Homo sapiens: one gene and its partner. The protein of the gene in region 2 interacts with the protein of the main gene of each other region in a pairwise test. Each region holds a gene or a part of one and is shown on either strand. Other genes may lie near its edges.

Region 1 (3,500 bases), on a different chromosome or scaffold from region 2:
CTGAAATGTACTAGTCTGAATTGAGACATGCTTTAAATGTAAAATACAAATTGGGTTTCAAAGCCTTAGAATTAAAAAAAAATGTGAAACACCTAAATTTTATTTTTTTTTTATTTTTGTTTTTTTTTTTTTTGAGCCAGAGTCTTGCTCTGTTGCCCAGGCTGGAGTGCAGTGGCACTATCTCGGGTCATTGCAACTTCCGCCTCCTGGGTTCACGTGATTCTCATGCCTGAGCCACCCGAGTAGCTGGGATTATAGCTGTGTGCCTCCACGCCCAGGCAATTTTTGTATTTTTAGTAGAGACAGGGTTTCACCATGTTGGCCGGCTGGTTTCGAACTCCTAACCTCAAATGTTCCACCTGGCTCAGCCTCCCAAAGTGCTGGGATTACAGGCGTGAGCCACTGCGCCGGGCCAATAATTTTTTACATTGATTACATGTTGGATAATATTTTAGGTATATTAGGTTAAATAATATTGAAATTAATATTATCTATTTCTTTTCATGCATTTTGTTTTATTTTGAGATGGAGTCTTGCTCTGTTGCCCAGACTGGAGTGCAGTGGCGCAATCTCAGCTCACTGCAACCTCTGCCTCCCGGGTTCAAGCAATTCTCCCGTCTCAGCCTCCTGAATAGCTGGGACTAAAGGTGCCAGCCACCACGCCCGGCTGATTTTTGTATTAGAGATGGGGTTTCACCATATTGGCCAGGCTGGTCCCAAACTGCTGACCTTATGATCTTCCTGCCTCAGCCTCCCAAAGTGCTGGGATTACAGGCATGAGCCACTACCTCCTTCTTTTAATCAAGATAATTTATGCTATCAGTGTATTTAACTTGCCTGCCATTCTCTATCTTCAGCGTTTTTTGCTGTCTATTTTGGGAAGATGAACAGAGGTCTCCATTAGTAAAATAGCTGATGAAGTTTATTATTGTTGGCAAAGGGATGCGCTCCCGTGTTGAGATTTCTTCAGATCAGGAGCCTCAGAGGCTCCTGAATTCCTTTCTTAATCTACATAATTAATCATAGGTAGCTGTTTTTGGTTCCCTTTTCATGTAACCTTTTTGTTTTTACAGTTTTTCAGGTTATTTTCAAGTCTTAAATTTTGTTGATATATGTACTTAGTTCATAGTAAGCCCTCAGTGTATATTTGTTGAATGATGTGTAATCTTAGTAACTGCTAACTTCATCATTTCTGATTTTGGTTCAAACTGAATTTAAATGATTTTTTTAAAGAAGTTATGTTTTGATCTTGGTCAAGTTCAGATATTGTCACAAAACTTTATGCATGCATAGAGGGAACTGTATAGAACTTAAACTCTGCAACGAGAAAGTCAGAATAGTTTTGTTCTTTTTTTTTTTTTTTTTTGAGTCTAGCTCTGTTGCCCAGGTTGGAGTGCAGTGGCACAATCTTGGCTCACTGCAACCTCTGCCTCTTAGGTTCAGGCGATTCTTGTGCCTCAGTAATTATTGTAGCTGAGATTACAGCCATGCACCACCACGCCCGGCTAATTTTGTATTTTTAGTAGAGATGGCGATTTGCCGTGTTGACTAGGCTGACCTTGAGCTCCTGATCTCAGGTGATCTGCCTGCCTCAGCCTCCCAAAGTGCTAGGATTACAGGTGTGAGCCACCATGCCCGGCCCAGAATAGTTTTGGGTGGCCATTTGGAACTGTTAACTTATTCCATTTCAAAGAGAACTGTTAGATAATACATACAAATGGGTGAACCTAACAAGCCAAGAACATTACTGGTATGTAAACAGTAGTAGTAGACACTTGTGTATTCTTAAAGAAATCTTCACATCCTCATTGTCCTTTTTCTTTTTTCAAACTCAGAACAGTTACATGCTCAATACTAATGAATGCTGAATGCTTGCCTTGAATAATTTTTTTTTCTTATTAGAGCTTACTCCATAATTGGCTGGGCGTGCTGGCTCTTGACTGTAATCCCAGCACTTTGGGAGGCTGAGGCGGGTGGATCACTTGAGGGCAGGAGTTCGAGACCAGCCCGGCCAACATGGTGAAACCATCTCCACTAAAAACACAAAAATTAGCAGGGCATGGTGGCTGGTGCCTGTAATCCCAGCTATTCTGGAGGCTGAGGCAGGAGAATCCCTTGAACCCAGGGTGGGGGTGTGTGTGGAGGTTGCAGTGAGCCAAGATCACGCCACTGCACTCCAGCCTGGGCAACAGAAACTCCATCTAAAAAAAAAAAAAAAAACTTGTAATAATTATTGTAATGTATAATGTAATTGGTAAATTTGCAGACTTTTTGAATTTGTGGAACAAGTATCTAGTGATTTGGAATAATTTTACTTTGTAGATTTAGTTGCGTAGATCTTTTTAAAAAGTATATTGTTTGAAGTTAAGACATTTTTTTGATTGCAGTAGCAGCCTTGACTATTTGGTACTTGTTGGAATCAAATTACAACTTAGATCTTTTAGTTGTGGTAAGCATCTTATAAGTTTATATCTTATAAATTTGAGATCCCTAGAGATGGAAAAATTAGAAGTGGGGAGTGGTGATGCACATACGTGCTGTATGGAAAACGTGTTGGCTGACAATAAGATATATTCTAATTCTTAAAAGTATACGTTTACATAGACACGTGTATAATTTTACACACACGTAAGTATGATATAAAAACTTAGTCTGTTGTATTTTTTTTTCCCCTGGTTGCTCTTCACCACCTGGGTCTCTCACCTCCGCCTCCATATTAGGTAACCTTTGTTTGTAGCACATATACGTGGTTCCATATATTTCACTATGCTCGTAGAATTGTATATAGGTACGCATTCAGTTACAAGTATAGGGTTTTTCAGTATTACTGTATAAAAATAGGATCATCCACATCTTAACTATTTTCATGTGGAGTATGATTTATTTTTTAAGGTTATATAATCATAACAATGTATTAAATTCAGCCATTCCCCAGTTAATAGACATACACTTTGTTTTCAGTTTTTTGTCGCTCCACATAACTATTTCCATTGGATAGATATCAAAGAATGGGATAGCTTGGTGAAAGGGAACCTTTAAAAAAACAAAAAACTGTAATAAATGTTGAAAGATTGCTTTCCAAAAAGGCTTCTGATGCTTCCTGTGTTCTCCATCAATAATAAATGGCAGCTTTTTCTTTTTATCTGGGCCAGAAGTTGGCTTTATGATCTTTAATTTTTGCCAGTCTGTTGGATGTAAAGGGATATCTCATTGGAACTTGATCCCAGTTGTGAATTTTAATGTTGTTTGCCATTTGAACTTGTTCTTTTAAGACTTGCCTTTGTTTGCCATTTGATTTTGTTTTTCTAAGAATTGCCTGTCTTTTGCCCATTTTTTTGTTGGGGTGTCCTTTGTCAGTTTTGAAAATCTTTCTGTATTATGGATATTAAGCCTCTGACCTGATGTAAGAGTGTCCACTCTCCCACCTATTTATTTAGGTTATTAATTTTGAGATAGGATCTCAAAATAAATAATACTGTGTCACCCAGGTTGCAGTGCAG
Region 2 (3,500 bases):
CTATCTAAGCTTTTGGGCAACTGAGATTTAATTTGAAATCTCAGGTCTTCTGTCTCTGAAGAGGTTGTTCTTTCTTATTTTGGCTTCCTAAAATGTTGGAATGAAATACTTCTCACTTGCTAACTTCAGACCCTGCAGAAATCAATATAATTAGTATGATTGTTTCCAACTGACTTAAATGTGTAGGAAATAGTATATATCCTTTAGGAAGTTTATCCTGATTTTTACAGAAAGTTTCTGTCTGCACTTGCCTTCTTTGAAGAAGCAAACATTCACGGTAGATTTATCTTCCAGGATTTTGATGCTGAGGCCAAGAGGCAGTTTTGAATTAAAGCCCTCCTGTGACTAGTGTATTAGTTTAATAATCAATGCATTATGATAATGAAGCAGTTTATAGATGAGGTGTAGTCGTTCTTTAAAAATTCAGTGTTCGTAAAGATTGATCAACTTCCTAACTGAATTACTCTTTTTCTTTCTTGAGCTAGGATGACAATAAGAGATATACTCCTGTCTGGTATACATTGGCTTTTATATTTTTCCAGACTTGTGTTTCATCGTGGGCACTGATTGCTGATTTTATTTTCATTTTACCAGAATAACTGGTTCTCCTCCTCCACCTCCTAAATGAATTTGTTTCCCGAATATTTATTTATTTATTTTTTTGAGACGAAGTTGCCCAGGCTCTGTTGCCCAGGCTAGAGTGCAGTGACACAATCTAGGCTCACCGTAACCTCTGCCTTCTGGGTTTGCGCGATTCTCCCGCCTCAGCCTCCCGAGTAGCTGGGACTGCAGGTGTGCGCCACCATGCCTGGTTAATTTTTGTATTTTTAGTAGAGACGGGGTTTCACTGTGTTGGCCAGGCTGGTCTCGAACTCCTGACCTCGTGATCTGCCTGCCTCAGCCTCCCAAAGTGCTGGGATTACAGGTGTGAGCCACCGTGCCTGGCCTCTGAATTTGTTTCTCTAACAAAATTAGTGGTTAATGTTTATTTGATGTTAAAAGTCAGTCAAAGAAAATAGGCTTTGGGATCCCACTCCGGACCCCGCCTTGGTGCCTGTAGGGTGAATTGACATTGCAATTCTTGCCAAGGAGAGGTTAATTGCAGATGAAAGTGGTGTTGCATGTTTTATATTTGCTAGTAGGGGATGTGCTGACTCTTACTAAAAAACATCTTTAGAAATGTCTTATGCATTATAATTTAATCCAAGTCTCTGATATTGGTTTGGATGGTTTTCAATACAAGCCAAGTAACCATTAAATAAGATTACATAACACTGTATTTTTAATTATCTGATATAATGTATGGATTGGTGGCTGGCTCACTGCCAAGTTACATTTAGTTGTCGTTGATTACAAGAGAAAGTGGAGCTGAGGATTCAAGATTAAGGTGGTCCAGATTTGTGTCTAGGTTGATAAAAGTTTTTTGTTTGTATATCAAAATGGTTTTTATATCAGTTTCTCAAATATTACAATTCTTAGCATTACTTAGAATAAATATGGAGGATAAAAATATATTAAGGAAGGATTATTATTTTATGTACATCTCTTTGTAATCCACAAAACCCAGGGGCTTAAAACTTGATTTTTGGGGACCCCTTTTGGAAAACATTTCGGATTTGCTTGAATGTCACAGACTTGTAAAGTAGAGAGTAAGAATGAGAACTGCAGAACTGTATTTAGGTATGGTGCCTTCATGCTATAGTTTGTGATTTTCTGTTTCATCCAAAGGAGGATGTGATTATTTAGTTTTTAGTTTTTTATTGTTTTTCTTTGTGTTATCAGTTTTTTTTTTTTTTTAAGAAAATGCGATCACTCACAGTGTTAGATATGCCATTTCTGAGTTTTATACAGTGTATTATGATTAAAAGTGACCCAGTGATTGTGAGTTACAGGGTTTTGGTATTGGACATTAGTAACAGGCTTATAGAGAACCTGCCATGCTGGTTCTCTGTGTTGGGTCCCAGGGGTAGGGAGGAAAAACAGTCTGCACTGGTGAGAAGCTCCTGCTCTCCTCTGTGTGCGTTTGAGAATGAATTTTCGGTTTGTAGATGCCCTCTTTCCTAAGGAACATCTTAGTCCTTCAACTATGCTGAAATATTTAATGATTGGATGGCTTAGATTTACTGTTAATAAATCAGCTTGTGGACATTTTTGAGGCACTTGTTGGTACTGGGTCATGTTTGTAATCTCGATACTGGTAACAGCTCAGAGATGGAGAGGTTATTAGCCTAGTTTTTCAGTTGTAGAAACCAAGATTCTGACAGCTAAAGTGACTTGCCCATGGTGACATGCTTATAATAAAATGTCAGAGTGAAGGGTCAAGCTTTGTTCTTTTACAGGTCCATTGTTCTTTTTACCATGTCCTACTGACTCTCAGTAACACTGAGAGTCTAAAGGGCTAAGTTACTGGCCAACCTGTGATGGTATAATTAGTGAATGATAGAAGGAGAATCAAAACCCTGGCTTTTTTATGTGCAGTTTGTTTTTCCTCTAGCCTGTGCTGAATTGAAAGATAAATTATATAGCATCCATTTTCATACTTCATTCTTCACATTTCTGCCCTAAGATAAGTCCTCTGACCTTTTTCAAAATGGGTTGGATTGCCTGTTTTCTGGTGTCACATAACACCTGGTGCTCTTACGGTGTGATCCTCATCACACTGCTTTGTTTGGATCTTTGTCTTTCTTGGTAAAGAGTGAGTTCCTCGGAAGACAGGGCCTGGTCTTTCCTCTGTATCTTCAGCACCTAGCATACGTCTGAGCACAGGGCCCTTGGGAACTCCTGTCTTCATTTCAGTGTTACGTGTTAATTATCATTAAGGGTAGCAGAATCAGAAAGTATATTTGGAATTTAGCAGTCAGTAAAGAGCTTTGCTTCTTACAGCTTTAGAGGACCTGAATTGGAGGTGGGGATGAAGTCAACAGTTCTGCCCATATCAATGAAAGAAGGTTCTGAGTGAAATGCAGGGTTGAACAAGCAGAAAAGCATCCCAGTGCTCTTTAAATGTGGTTGCACAGTAGGGATCCTTCTCTAGGAGATAATGAGAAGATGTTGTCAGATCTGCTTTGAATCAGATGTTTATTTACTTTTATTCTTTCTTAAGGAATTTATGAAATCACTGCACTCTCATCAATTTGCTCTCCTTCTCTAAACTCCTAATGATATTTCTCATGACAGATTAAAAACAGAATTTTGGAAGCCCTAGTCACATGCCAAATAAGGTTTCTTACCTGAGAGAGTTATCCGCAGTTTCAGATGCCAAAGGGAAACTCCGAAAGCCAGAGGAGCGATTGAAACCGCAAATTGAGTGCCAACAGCAACTTTGATATCAAAAGCCCCATTTGCCTGTTGTCACCAGTCCCGCTGAGTGAAGATAGAATGACTTATATCTTCTACCAAAACAATAGAAGGAGAGTGTTCCTTGGCGTTGGGGATGATGATTATAAAAGCCACCAATTTGAGGCTCTTCCGTGCCAGCTGCTTTCTGTGCATTCTCTCCC

The links.
Region 1: the proteins of KHDRBS3 (region 2) and FXR1 interact in a two-hybrid assay, tested with the Homo sapiens proteins (one large-scale study listed by BioGRID and IntAct).

The regions. Positions count from the first base shown.
Region 1 is NC_000003.12:180,919,170-180,922,669, forward strand, and holds part of FXR1 (RNA-binding protein FXR1), read left to right. Parts: intron 1-3,500. UniProt on the Homo sapiens protein: mRNA-binding protein that acts as a regulator of mRNAs translation and/or stability, and which is required for various processes, such as neurogenesis, muscle development and spermatogenesis.
Region 2 is NC_000008.11:135,460,456-135,463,955, forward strand, and holds part of KHDRBS3 (KH domain-containing, RNA-binding, signal transduction-associated protein 3), read left to right. Parts: intron 1-3,177; exon of another isoform or gene 3,178-3,433; coding exon of another isoform or gene 3,434-3,500. UniProt on the Homo sapiens protein: RNA-binding protein that plays a role in the regulation of alternative splicing and influences mRNA splice site selection and exon inclusion. Binds preferentially to the 5'-[AU]UAAA-3' motif in vitro.